Homo sapiens: one gene and its partner. The protein of the gene in region 2 purifies or fractionates together with the protein of the main gene of each other region. This does not show direct contact. Each region holds a gene or a part of one and is shown on either strand. Other genes may lie near its edges.

The links. The genes of interacting proteins can lie anywhere in the genome.
Region 1: the proteins of ST8SIA3 (region 2) and NRP2 purify together in Homo sapiens (affinity purification with mass spectrometry; 2 studies listed by BioGRID and IntAct, with this or other methods). This does not show direct contact.

The regions. Positions count from the first base shown.
Region 1 is NC_000002.12:205,741,495-205,748,520, forward strand, and holds part of NRP2 (neuropilin-2 isoform 2 precursor), read left to right. Parts: intron 1-1,708; coding exon 1,709-2,058; coding exon of another isoform or gene 2,059-2,085; exon of another isoform or gene 2,086-2,204; intron 2,205-4,251; coding exon 4,252-4,396; intron 4,397-7,026.
Region 2 is NC_000018.10:57,348,658-57,355,562, reverse strand, and holds the start of ST8SIA3 (alpha-N-acetylneuraminate alpha-2,8-sialyltransferase ST8SIA3), read right to left. Parts: upstream 3,007-6,905; 5' UTR 2,717-3,006; coding exon 2,538-2,716; intron 1,162-2,537; coding exon 1,039-1,161; intron 1-1,038. UniProt on the Homo sapiens protein: Catalyzes the transfer of sialic acid from a CMP-linked sialic acid donor onto a terminal alpha-2,3-, alpha-2,6-, or alpha-2,8-linked sialic acid of an acceptor, such as N-linked oligosaccharides of glycoproteins and glycolipids through alpha-2,8-linkages.

The sequences.
Region 1 (7,026 bases), on a different chromosome or scaffold from region 2:
AGATTGGAGAAGACCAGAGTGGGAGTTGGGACATTATAGGAGGCAATGCAGGGGGTGCAGATGGGAGATGATGATGGCTGGATTAGCCCCAGAAATTTATGGACAGACCAATCCCCTTTATCTTGTGGGCTCAGCCCAGGGCAGGCAAGTTGCCTCTTTGACCTGGAAGTGTCTTCAGTGTACATCCATCCACGTGCCTTTCCCCTAATCATTCCAGCTCTGACAGGGAGTGCTCCAAGGTCTGACCCTGTTTGAGGTTTCTAGTTAAAACACCTTGTGTTTGTACAGTCTCTGCATCTCCACATGCCTTTCTTGTTTATCATCTTGCCTACACTTTCTAACAACCCTGTGAGGTAAGGTGGGCCAGGGACTGATAAGGAAACCAAGACTCAAAGAGGCTAAATAGCTTGCCCAAAGTCATTCAACTAGGAGGTGACAGAGCCAGGATCTGAACCCACGTTTTCTCAATTCAAATTCTCTGCTCTTACCACATTTACACAAAGACCCATTTTCTTCTAATGGGATCAGTTTATGCTAATCCTGTCTAGGGGACTATTTTCTGTCCCTTCCCTGTTGCTGTTCCAGGATAATCAGCAAAGATTTAGGTAGAGGTCATTCTCTGGAAGATTGAAAGGAGAGAACCAGTGATTTTGAAGAAGGGGAACAACGTGGAGGATCTTTTTTATCCATAGCTCAGTTTGCAAGTATGAAATGCACATTGACTATAGACCCTGCCTTGCCTGACATCATTTATTCATGCATTCTCCACTCAATCATTTGTTCCACACATCTGATGTGCCAGGCACACACTGGGAATGGGACATAGAGACAGGAACAAAATAGATGGGGTCTCTGACATCGTAGAACTTTCAGGCTACTGAGCAAGATAGATAATAAACAAATGCAAGTACTGGATAAACTAGAATGTGCACATGAAGGAAAAGAACAGGGTGCTCTGAGGGAAACCAATTTAGTGAGGATTGAAAATTTGGGAACAGCTTTTCTGTGGATATGACACTTGAGCTTGGGGGTAAGAAAATGTTAGTCTGGGGGTGACTGAAGGGAAAAGCATTTGGGGTAATGGGAACAGCATGTGGGAAGGATCCAAGGCAGTAAAGAGCAGTTATTTGGGAAGTAAAGACCTGATACTGATGCCAGGAAGGTTTCCTTCTACTTGGCAAAACAATTACTAGGAAATAATTCAATGTTTAGCTCAGTTCCCCTGTTCTCAGTGTCCCTGATAGGGTCAGTGGGGACTAGTGTCATCGACAGGGATGTGCAGACACACATTCTGAGAGTCCTTGGTTAGAGCTGTAAGCACAAATAGTTAATGGCCATTGGATACTTAAATATGCCAGGCACCATCCTGTGAGCTCTTAGTAACTAACAGAATCCTTGCAACAGCCCTCAAGAGGTAGGCACCTCTATTAGCTCCCCTTTAGATCTAAGGAAACTGAGGCAAAGAGCAATTAAATAATTTGCCCAAGGCCCTCTGACTAGTAAGTGGCAGAGTGAACATGAACACAGGCAGTCTAGCTCTGAGTCCAGGCTCTTAACCACAGTGCTGTACACATTCACCATGCAAAGAAATTAGTGCTGACTTAGTATTTGACAGTTGGGCTCTTTTGCAGCTCCCTTCTTATAGCGGGTGGTCCCTGGTTAGCAGGTGTCAGCCATGACCTCTTGTATCTTCCTCTCCTCTCTGCAGATGCTCCCTGCTCCAACATGCTGGGGATGCTCTCAGGCCTCATTGCAGACTCCCAGATCTCCGCCTCTTCCACCCAGGAATACCTCTGGAGCCCCAGTGCAGCCCGCCTGGTTAGCAGCCGCTCGGGCTGGTTCCCTCGAATCCCTCAGGCCCAGCCCGGTGAGGAGTGGCTTCAGGTAGATCTGGGAACACCCAAGACAGTGAAAGGTGTCATCATCCAGGGAGCCCGCGGAGGAGACAGTATCACTGCTGTGGAAGCCAGAGCATTTGTGCGCAAGTTCAAAGTCTCCTACAGCCTAAACGGCAAGGACTGGGAATACATTCAGGACCCCAGGACCCAGCAGCCAAAGGTAGGCTGTTCTTGGAGGCCTCTGTAACGTTACCCTCAACAGGGAGGCTAAGTGTGGTACAGGGAGTTGAGACTGATGATGTCCCATCTAAACAGTCGTCATCCAACTCCTGAAATCCAATAAAACAAATATCGTTTGAGAGATTACTTTGTGCCAGGCACTGTGCTAAATACCTTATTTCTGACTCTTTTGTTTGTTTGTTTGTTTGTTTTTGAGATGGAGTCTCTGTCACCCAGGCTGGAGTGCAGTGGCCTGTTCTCGGCTCACTGCAACCTCCGCCTCCAGGGTTCAAGCGATTCTCCAGCCTCAGCCTCCTGAGTGGCTGGGATTACAGGTGCCCGCCACCACACCTAGCTAATTTTTGTATTTCTGGTAGAGATGGGGTTTCACCGTATTGGTCAGGCTGGTCTCGAACTCCTGACCTCAAGTGATCCACTTGCCTTGGCCTCTCAAAGTGCTGGGATTATAGGCATGAACCACCGCGCCCGGCCTGGACTCTTTTTTAATCGTTACAACATCTGTGCAAAGTAGATCTTTTTGTCACTCCCATTTTAGAGATGATAAACTGACACTTGATATCATGCCCAGGGTCACACAGTTCACCTGTGATAGAGCCGATTCAGAAACCGGAAGTCTGACTCCAAAGTCCAGATGCCTAACCCCTACTGAACACTGCCTTTTTATAAAGTTCAACACTCTTTATACACTCTTTCAGATAAAGTTTCCTTGAAATTGGCCAGACATCTAAAGGGGATGTGGTTTTTGGAGGCCAAGCTATAGAAACTAGAGGATGACTTCCAAAAATAACGATGTTTTTCTGAATGTCGCTGCATTCCTTTGTATTCTCCTAGTTTTGACTGCTTAGATCTTTCCGGCCTCTCAGACTGAGGCAAGGGAGAAGCAAGAGAAACTCACCCCGAGCCAGAAGCTCAGGCCAGTACAGCTTACTCCCCTGCCACCAGAGTGAAGGTCAGCCTTCAACACAGACACAAGGAGCCCCAGAAGGGGAGGAGACGTCATACCTCTGTCCCTCCCCAGATCAGTCTCCTGGCAGGCCAGGCTCTCTGATTCTTATCTCTAGTTACCCCTTGTTTTTCTCAAAAGAACAGGTCCCTAAAAAAGGAGGGAGTTTGCATGTCTCGGGGCCACCTTTGCTAAGCAAATGTCTCCATTCTGAATACAGAGGCAAGAGTTGGGTTGGAGGTTTTGCGATGCTGAGGTAAACTCCCAGCTCTCAACTCCAGAGGCTTAGAAAGGCTCAGGGCTTGGTAACTGGAACCTTGCATCGATGGAGCAGAAGTTGGACCGCAGGCTTCCCCATGGAGAGCTGAGCCTGGTTTTTCTTGGGAAAGAAGTTGATCTTTGCCATTGTGGGAGACAGCCCTATCCGAGACAGTGCTTCTGGTTCAGAATTGTGGACGCAGGGCATCCTGAAAACTGGAGCGGTCCTGCTGAATTTCTGGGGGCTAATCAGCTGCAGGCCCTGGCCACCCACTCCTGTCCTTCCCCCGGATGAGTGTCTCCAAGTGTACTCTAGGCTGGTCCTCCAAAGCAGCCCCCTGCTCCCCGCATCATCAGTTTTATGTACTGGGGCTCCATGTGAGGTTTCTTTTGACAGGAGTGCTTTCCCTAAACAAAGGTTTGGGAAACAGTCTAAGACTATCGATGTGTGACCAGAAGACAGTGTCATTGGCCTAGGGGTCATTTTCCCGTAAGGTTCTCAGTGAGCTAGGAACTATCAGTCAGCTTGGGTTACCTCAATGGAGGCTTTCACACATTAGAAAAAGAAGTGTTCCTTTCCCTGTAGACCAGGAATTCAGAACGGTCAAAGATCGCCCAAACTGCCTTCCCCCCTCTCTAGCCAAAGTCAGCTGAAAACGCAGTTGGAGCCAAATTCTTCCCCAGATACTCCATTTTAGTCACCAGGTAAAAGACACAACCTGGAAATTGCCACCTTTGTTTACTTCCTATTTTCCATAATTCTGGGTCCATAACCACCTTCCAAATGAATAAAATCCTTGGTCTGAAAATGAAGCTCGCGTGGATCAGAATGTCCCAGTGACCAGGAATCAACTAGGAAGCTGCCTTCCTAGCAGGACGTGCGGGGCAGGGAGGAGAAGGGGAAGGAAAGGGAAGAAGGTGATAGGGACTGGGTCCCACACCAGAAGGGCTGAGTGGCCTCTCTCCCTGCAGCTGTTCGAAGGGAACATGCACTATGACACCCCTGACATCCGAAGGTTTGACCCCATTCCGGCACAGTATGTGCGGGTATACCCGGAGAGGTGGTCGCCGGCGGGGATTGGGATGCGGCTGGAGGTGCTGGGCTGTGACTGGACAGGTAAGATGACATTTCCTCCTCTTTGCATCTCACCCACATGGTCCTCTGACCCTGGCATCCCACGAGGCCCTGGGAGGGCTGTGGAGGGGGCAGCCATCCCAGGAGCTGGAAATGCTGCAGACCCCTGCCATGTTCTCCTGCCTCAGACCACGGGTACTGCAGCCTCTGGACTTGGGACAGTTTCTCAAGGGATGTACTTTGTCTTTTTTAAGGGATCATTTCAGTTCTCCAACCCGAGTCTCTCAAAAACAAATCATAACCACACACCACCCACCCAAATTCAATTAGACCCTGGCTCTTCAGGCCAGAGGGCTGTGGCTGTTGATTTAGGGAAGAAAAAAACCCCTCATGATAATAAAGTAATCGGTTTATGTCTGAATCTGGCCTCCAGATGTCAGTGGCTAAGAGACTTCATTTTCATTTCGGAGCCACATCTGTAAAAGGCATTTATTTGCTCAGGAGGGACCCTGTTGCAGGGAGCTGATGGGGGCAGGACTCCTTCTCATTGTCCTGCTCATTCCTGCCAGGTGGCCCAGGCCTTGGGGAACACCTCTCATCATTCCAAATGAGGGTGAGGCCCACGGAGGGTGCCCAGCCTTCCTGGTTTCCGAGGGAGGGCCCTGCCCTTCTGAGTCAGGCCCTACCTTCCTTTCCTTGGGTCGCCAGCCCTCCTCCCTCAGCAGAGCTGGCACCAGATCTTACCCAGAGCTCACTCACTGCCTGCCAAAAGGAGTTTGTGGGAGCCACTGGGGCTCAGGGACTGAGCCTGATGCCAGCAGGAGCAGCCACCAGCCTGAGCTATCCTGCCCTCCTCCGCCAGAGCCCCAGGTATCCCCATTTTCCTGTCTGTGCCGTACCTGTCACGGGCTCAGCCGGCAGGATGGCATGAGGGATTAATAAGGGCATGTCGGAGAAGTGCTTTTGGCTCCCAGGGAGAAAAATGCTGCCTGTATGCTGGCTACAGCAGCGCAGAGGAGCCCTGTTGAGGCACACGGGCTGGGAATTGGGCCCAAATTAGCCTCCTCACTTTTGAATTGAAGGCAGCCCCAGCGAACACATCTTCATAGGAAGACACTTAACTCCCCATTACCTGGGGATGAGGCCAAAGTTCCCTGCAGCCTGCTAAACGTGTGTCACCCGTCCTCTCACAGGTGCAGAAAACCTCCCCCCGATACAAGCTGGCTTCATTTATGTGCCCTGGAATCAGGGGCTCAGCGCTGTAGGGGATCCAGGAGCTTGTAAGCCAGTGGCTTTCACACACTTCTGCCCATGATACACAATTTAAAATAATTTTCCTTCACAACCCGCTTCACTTATAAGCACTCACACACAGTGGTGTATACGGGGTACAGTGTATGGGTAAGTGCTTGGACTCTGGAGACAGATTGCCAAGTTCAAGTCCTGCCCCTGCCATTGGCTGGCTGCATAACCTCAGAAAAGTTAGTCTCTCAGCGCCTTGGTTATCTTAGCTGAAAAATGGAGAGGACAATAGTCTGTCTACCCCATAGGGTCATTGTGAGGATTAAATGAATGAATGGATGTGAAATACTTAGACTACTGCCTGCACCCAGCAAACCTGTTATGATAAATAACTGTAACTGAAACAAAAGGTTCCCAAAGCAATGGTCATCTTAACCATGGAAGTGCACTCCAAAATATTATAGTCGGTATGTTTTAAAAGCTGGTCATGACCTATTCGACGGATTCCACAACCCAATGATGAGAGTGATGCGTGGTTTGGGAAATATCACAGACCTGGGCCAATTCCTCTTTCATAGACAAGGAAACAGCCCCAGAAGGTAGAAGTCACTTGCCAGAGGTCACTCAGCTGGATGAAGTCCACCTCATTCTTCCCCCCATCCCTTGCCCTTCAGTGCCATGCCCTCCCAGTCTGGCCAGTGGGACAGTTGCTAATGACCTCTTTCCTTCATTGCTCCCCAATCCCAACATGCCCCAAATTACACTGGTGATGGTCAGTGACAGGTTTCTTATTTCAAAGCCCTGCCTGGCCATTCCTTGGAAGATCAGAGTTGAGGAGCGTTCCCCTCTGCCCAGCCTCCTTTCCTTTGAAGTCTCTGACATCTGGTTTCAATTTCAGGGGTAGCGTTGCTGTTTGATGGGCAGTTACCTTGGAGCACCCAGTACAAACATAGTACAAACAGTATAAACACCGAGGCCTCGGTGCCCGCCGTTCCTCCACTTTCATTTACACGCCCTGCCCTCCGGTGCCTCATTGGCCCCTGGGTTTAACATTCTTTACACCAATCAGCTGACCCATTTTGCTACCTAACATTTCCAGAAACTGTTCTCCATAGGTCACGTGGCTATGTTTGCTTTTCGAATTTCCATCTGTTTCTCACACTCATCTTCGGTTCACTTCTTCATCCCTATCCCAAAGGATAACAGGAAAAATAATGGGCTGGGCTGAGCTGCTGCAGCTAAATACTTTGACAGGGCTGCTTCACCTGTTAGTTGGTTTGTGTTTCAAATAATTATGTTTTGCCTTACTGCCCCATAGTTTGCTTTACAATCGAGTTTCTATGACACAGTGACAAACTTGAACTTACAAATTAGGACACTTCGAGGTTATTTGCTATTTACTGTGAGCAAAAGGCAGACACAGCAAAGGG
Region 2 (6,905 bases):
AATTTATAATTAAACATAAGTGTTTTTAAAATGTTAATCATATGACTGTATGCTGACTTTTCATCTGAACAGTATTTTCATGAGACCATGAATACCCACTGAATTTGTTTTAATTCTGCCCATAGATTAAACTTTTAAAAGAGAGAGAGAGCAATAACTAGAAATGCTAAGATCAAAACACAACTCCCTAAATAGAGTGGTTTGTAAAATAAGTATTCACACTTCTAATGAATACGCTAGATGGCTCACATCCCATTTAGCAGTAAAATAATCCCACCATGAAGGAAGGAGTAATGAGTTATCGTGGTTTGCTAAGAGTAGACCAGAATCACTGAGCAGAATAAATACATTTGAACAAATCTCATCCTTCTTCCACCTAAAAAAACAAAACCTCAAAACCATCTTATGTGTATAAAATGAAACCGCTACAATTAGTAGGAATTAAGTTAGGTACCTTTACAGTAAGTTAAAAGCTGTAAAGACAATGAAAACAGGCAAAACCAAAACAAAACCATAGTTAAATATCTACATACATTTGGGCCAGCATTTTCACGAGTAATTTGATGGAGACAGATTATGGCATTTTCCGTGTGTTTCAAAGAAACAATACCACTTTATTCTATTTTTCAAGTTTTTTTCAGTGAGGAAATGAAAATGCATTGGGTGGTCTTTTTGCAACTAACCTTTTGTCTGTTTTTTTTTTTTAAATAGATGGCTTTGGCAGTACTTGCCAGACTTGTTAGCTGTAAATCATGGTGCTCAATCAAGCCCAAGTGGAATGCTTTTTTTTTTTTTTGCTATTCAAATTGGTCCTGATATGTCCTTTTTATGAGAGGACACTACACACACAGGAGAAGGTTCCTGATCATTGCTTTGTGCAGTCATGCCAAGAAAACAATGCAGATACACCTGATGGTGAGGGTGGGGCGTATAGATGTTTGTTGTTTTAGATGTTTTTGTTTGCTTGTTTTTGTTTTGTTTTGTTTTGAGCTCTTGAATTCTTAAAAGCACCTTTTGGATCTTTTCCTCCTATCCTACCTTTGATGTAAAAACGCTGTCCGATTAAATTTCCACTTAGAAGGTTTCTCTTGGAGTTCCTGGGTGAGAGAATTCGTAATGGGCACGAATGACGGGTCTAGAAACTTCAGCGCAAATTGTGACCTGGAGAGGAGCATGAGCACAGACAAGCGTGCTGGCCTCAGCTCGGGGAAGCCGAGGTAGCCATTAAAGTGCAGCGGCTGGGGCGAGGGCGGCTGGTACGCGTGCGGGCTCCGTTCCGTCCCGGAGCCCCTCTCATTTGGTCCACCCTCTGCTCCCACACACACCCGAGAGAAAAAAAGAAAACTAGGGAACCCCATCTGCATTGTCCATCCCTCCGGGTGCCGGAGAGACCATAAAATGGCCGTCATGCGGAGAGCAGGGCGCACGCCGGGCGCAGGGCTGGAGCCCGCGGCGCTGCGAGGACCAGGGAATCAGCACCGCGGACAGCGGCCGCCCCGCCAGCCTGACCCGCTACGCCTTTGCAGCCCCATAGAATTGTTTTTGGAGAAAGGGCAGAGGAAACCGGAGACCCAGGGAAAGTCTGGGGGTGGTTCCTGCCTTAACCTCTTCCTTCCCAAACCCACGTCCGATTTCACTTCCTATAACTTGGCTGGGGACCCCCGGGGGCCGCCGGCCTACTCCGCTCCTCGGTCCAGGCGAGGCTCCTCTGGGTTCCTCGCCTCGGTCCCAGCTTGGACCACAGGTGGCACTTTGTAGTTGCCACCTGCCCGTCAGGAGGCCCTGCTGGGAGAGTTCCCGGGGTCACAGAGCGGGGCGGGGGCTCTCGCAGAGCGGCGTCAAGCTGCGCCTGGAGCCTTCACAGGCCGGCCCAGCGCGGAGCGGTGACTCCGACCTGGCGAGGGTGGGCGGCCCTTCCGAGGCTCGCTTCCCGCAGGGGGCGGGGGAATTGCAGAAATCCCGGAAAGCTGGTGGGGGGCGGTGGCTGCGGGGGAAAGGGTTGAGAGAGAACGCCCCAGGGGCTTCCTGAGAATAAACCCGCGTGTCCTTTGATAGGCGTGGGGGAGTAAAGGAGGAGGGCGCGAGGGGAGTCCGGCGCCTGCGCCATTAAACCGCCAGCACCGCCCCGGGCCCGGCCCGCGGAGTCTGCGGACAGGGCGCGGGGAGGGCGCTCCCCTCACGCCTGTCCATCTCTGCTCGCCGCCCCCTCCCGAACAAACACACCGTCTTTCCCTCCACCCTCACCCTCCTGAAAGCCTCCCCCAACCCCCATTTCTGAAATGAGGGAAGGGATGCTGAGGAAGAATACGAGAAATGCAATCACATCGATTTGGACAGCGGCTTCTAGGGGCTTTGGGTTAAAAAAAAAATAACAGGGAGGGGGAAGGGAGAATTAGAGAGAGGAGTGGAAGGACCGCGCAGTTATCTGGCCCAAAGAGTCTCGGAGAGGCCAAAACACCCCTCCCCCACGCCTTCCCTTCCCCAAACACCCCATCAACCAAATTCCCGAGGGCACTAACACAGAGGCCCGCACTCACCGGAATCCCGCGTGGAACATGTACATTCGGGGCGCCCCCGGGCTGGCGTACTTGGGAGTGGTGAAGATGTTCTCCTTTTTCAGGGACACGTAGCTGATGAGCGATAAAATCAGCAGGGCGACGCTGAGCATGACCAGCCCCAGCACACTGGCGACCCGGGCCATTTTGCAGTTTCTCATCCCGGGCTGGGCTGGGTTCAGGGAAACCGGGGAAATCGGTCCATTGAGCGGCCAGCAGCTCGCTGGCGTGTATATATGTGTGTGTGTGTGTGTGTGTGTGTGTGTGTGTGTGTGAGCGCGCGCGCGTGTGGCGGAGGAGGGGGACCCGGGCGGGGGTGGGGGGAGGCCACCGGGGCCGGGGGTTGGGGCTGGCAGGAGCCCCGGAGAGCAGCGGGACCCCGTAGGCAGGGGCGCGCGGGGCCCGGTGCCGAGCAGGAAGATGGAGGGGCTGCGCGGCGGCGTGGCGAAGGAGCGCGCAGCGCCGTGCGTCCCCGGCCGCCGGCTCAGGCTCCCCCGCGCGTTTCCAGCGAGGCTGCCATCTCCTCCGCCGCCTGCAAGATAAATGTGATTGGAATAATGTTACAGTTCGATCTAAGCACAGGATTTAATTAATGAACTCTAATCTCCCAAATAACCGGGGGGAGGGGGTGCAGGAGAGGGAGGGAGTAGAGGGAAATGGTGGAGGGAGGGGGACTGAGGCTGCCAGGCTGCAGCCCGAGCCTACGGCCTCCCCGGCTGAGGGTGCCGGCGAGGAGGTGGCTGTGGGGAGACGGGATCCCAAACTTAGTTTAATGGACCATTCATTACTTTATAATATCACGGAATAGAGAGACAAATAACCGGATTTGCTGTCCTGGAGGGTAAACAACAGCTGGGTGCTTCTCAAAGAAGCAGGGAGGATGGTTTTTGGAAGGCAGCTATTTAAAAGCATCTCCCCTCGTTAAGGCACCGCCCCGGCCCCCTGCCCCCGCCATCCTCCCACCCCAAAGGAAGCTCCAAACAGCAACTGGGCCTGCCTGCCTCGGGAGCCCTTAAAACCTTCTTGGAATTTGCCAGAATGACTCCCCTGTGCGCCTTGTATGCCCACCACATACTTCACTTATCCCTAAAGGGTGGGTAGTGCCTAGCAAAGTTGCGAGGTGACCTGTGAGTCGGGAGGGCCTGCCTTCCTCTCCCCTTTCCGTCTTCCAGTGGATGGACAATGTGCTTGCCCCTGACTTGACTGGGCCTGTTGAAGTCAGCCCTGGTTTAACTCTCCGTTGCCCACTCTTCAGATCCATCCTTCGGGCCTGGTCTCCTGATGGGCTAGGTGGCCTGAGCCTCCCAAAAGCTGAGGCCATTAAAAAACACAGAACTTTTTATGAAGCAGCCCAAGAACCAAATAATAGAGGCTGCCTCTGAGAGTGGAAGGCAAACGCACTAACACTTTGCATTGCTTGACCTTAAATTTATTTTAGCATATTCACGTGTTTCTTGTATATCCATTAGAAATACAAATTAATCCATTTTCAGTCATGCAGTTGGGTGCTCAGGGGAAACTAGCATGTTTCTTTAGCTCTGTCCTTTGCAATTAGCTTATGGCCTCTGCTACCCTAGCTTTACTCTTCGCTTGGTCCTCCCAATACTAGTTAATAAGCACTAATGAGGGAAGCTAGGGGTGAGAAATTGGCGTTTGAGTTCTGATAAAACAAGTTGAGATTCTTCCAAGATGGTTATGACTTCTTTCTCTCCTGAACTTCTTGCCTTGTAGGCTTTCATGGACCTAATGTTATTATCTGTCTGGAGGCTGTAAATTCCTTGAAGGGGTGAGCTCCTGGATTGTAAGCTTCGGCAGAGCAAGGCTTGTCTTACTTCTCCAATACTGTCTCTTACACATGTCATGCTTGCTAAATGTTTGAAGACCTGATGAGCTCCCTTGGGAAACATATCTGTGTGGTTGTGGACAGTGGCACAAAGAATGCTCCTATTTGTTTCCAGTGACAAAGGGGGTCACTTTGCACCCACTAGAGACTTTTTAACCAAAATCTAAAAGTGTGTGTCAGGAGGACACAAATAACCTCCTTTCCTCTGTGGGGCTTTTTTATTATTTAAAAAAATTTAGAAAAGGCTTGCATGCCTGGATATGATGAACACTTGAACTGTATTTTTTTAAATTGCTATTTTTTAAAAATGATTGTATGAGTAAGGTGTAAAATGCCAAAGGGAGTAAGATCTTAAGAGAGCCATCTAGGAATGACACCTGTTAGAAAAAGTCTTCTTGAACCAGAAATCAGGAAACATGCTATGGAGAGGCAGCCTGGGGTAGTGTTACACCTTCAGACTGTGGAGCCAGAAAGACCTGACTTCAAAAGCATACTCTGGGTATTATCAAAAACACAAAAAATAACAAATGCTGGCAAGGATGCAGAGAAAAGGGAACTCGTATACACTGTTGGTGGGAATGCATTCTAGTACAGCCACTATGGAGAACAGTACAGAGGTACCTGAAAAAAACTACAAACTGAACTATTATAAGATCCAGTATTCCCATGACTGGGCGTTTATGCAAAGGAACGGAAATCAGTATGTCAAAGAGATATCTACCACCATGTTTATTGCCACATTGTTCACAATAGCCAAGATATGGATCAACCCAAGTATTCAACAACAGATGAATGGATAAAGAAAATGTGGTATATATACATAAAGGAATCCCATTCATCCATAAGTAAGAATGAAATTCTGTCATTCTCAGCAACAGGAATGAGCCTGGAGGACATTATGTTAAGTGAAATAAGCCAGGAACAGAAAGTTAAACACCGCATGTTCTCACTCATACACAGAAGCTAAAAAAGCTGATCTCAAAGAAGTAAAAAGTAGAACAGAGAATACTAGAGGCTGGGAAGTGTACGGGGGAGAGAGGATAAAATATTTATTAAAGGATACAAAATTACAGCTGGATAGAAGGAATAAGTTCTAGTGTTCTATAGCACTATAGGATGACTATAGTTACAATAATGTATTGTATATTTTCATATACCTAGAAGAGAAGATATTGAATGCCCCAAAACAAAGAAATGATACAAGTTTGAAATGACAAATATGCTAATTACCCTGATGGGATCACTATGTATTGTATGTATCAAAATATCACTATGTACCTATATATGTATGATTATTATGTATCAATTAAAATAAATGCTTACTCTGGCATCCACAGCCAGGTGACCTTGGGTAAGTTACAACTTCTCTGTGTTTCAGTCTGCTAATCTGCAGAACTGGGATAAAAATCTCCCAGGGTTTGGGGGAAGATTAAACAAAGCATATAAAGGCCTTTGCACCCTGGCCTATATTAAGCAGTTAATAAATATGAGCTAACAGCTTGGGTAAGTTTTTAGTGTCTTTTTCTCTGACCCTGTAAATGTCCTGCTACAGAGTGCATACGAAAGGATGTACTTAGGTGAGATATTTTCTTGCAGAGAATAGCAAAGATCAAGAAACTCTTCTGTTCCCTTTATAAAACAGCATTGCAGGCTTTCCTGAGACATCTGATATGGGTTCGCTCTGCCTGGATTTAAAAACTGATGTATTACTTATGCTTAGCACACCTCTGTGAACCTTCTAAAGAAAGTCCTAGGAGGACGATTTTCATATTGCATACAGGCCACTGAAGGTCACATGATGTAAAGGGACCAAATTAGCCAGAAAATAAACAGGCAGGCAGGCATCCTTATTACATGTGACAGGCTTATGGGTGAAAACGGATTGCTCAATAATTACCAGGGGAATAATTTTGGTGGCGGTGCTTCAAAAAACAACTGTAGCTACTGGATAAGGGATTTTTCAGGCCTGGGATTATAGCTATTTAATAATTAAAAAAAATCAGGACATTTTAACAAAATATCACTTATCAAATTTCATTGGAAATCAATCCTGTGCAAGAGTATAGGCGAGTGAAAATAAGAAGCACAGAAATGAAAAATCCCCCAGATGTAATGTTTTCTAGGAGAGTGTTATTCTAGACATAGGAACTTACTTCCCTTCTTCCACTCTCATGAGTGCCCACCTTTTGCGAACATGACTCTGCTCCCTGGCTAGCCCCTCACCAACCCATACTGGCCAAGAACAATTTCCAGGAACCCATTTAGGTGGGAAGGCCAGGAAAGGTGGTGTATTTTGTTAGAAACAACATTGTTCCTTTGGGAGGCAGAGGCGGGCAGATCACTTGAGGTCAGGAGTTTGAGACCAGCCTGGCCAATGTGATGAAACCCTGTCTCTACTAAAAATACAAAAATTAGCCTAGTGCAGTGGTGGGCCCCTGTAATCCCAGCTACTCAGGAGGCTAAAGAAGGAGAATCACTTGAACCCAGGAGGCAGAGGTTGCAGTGAG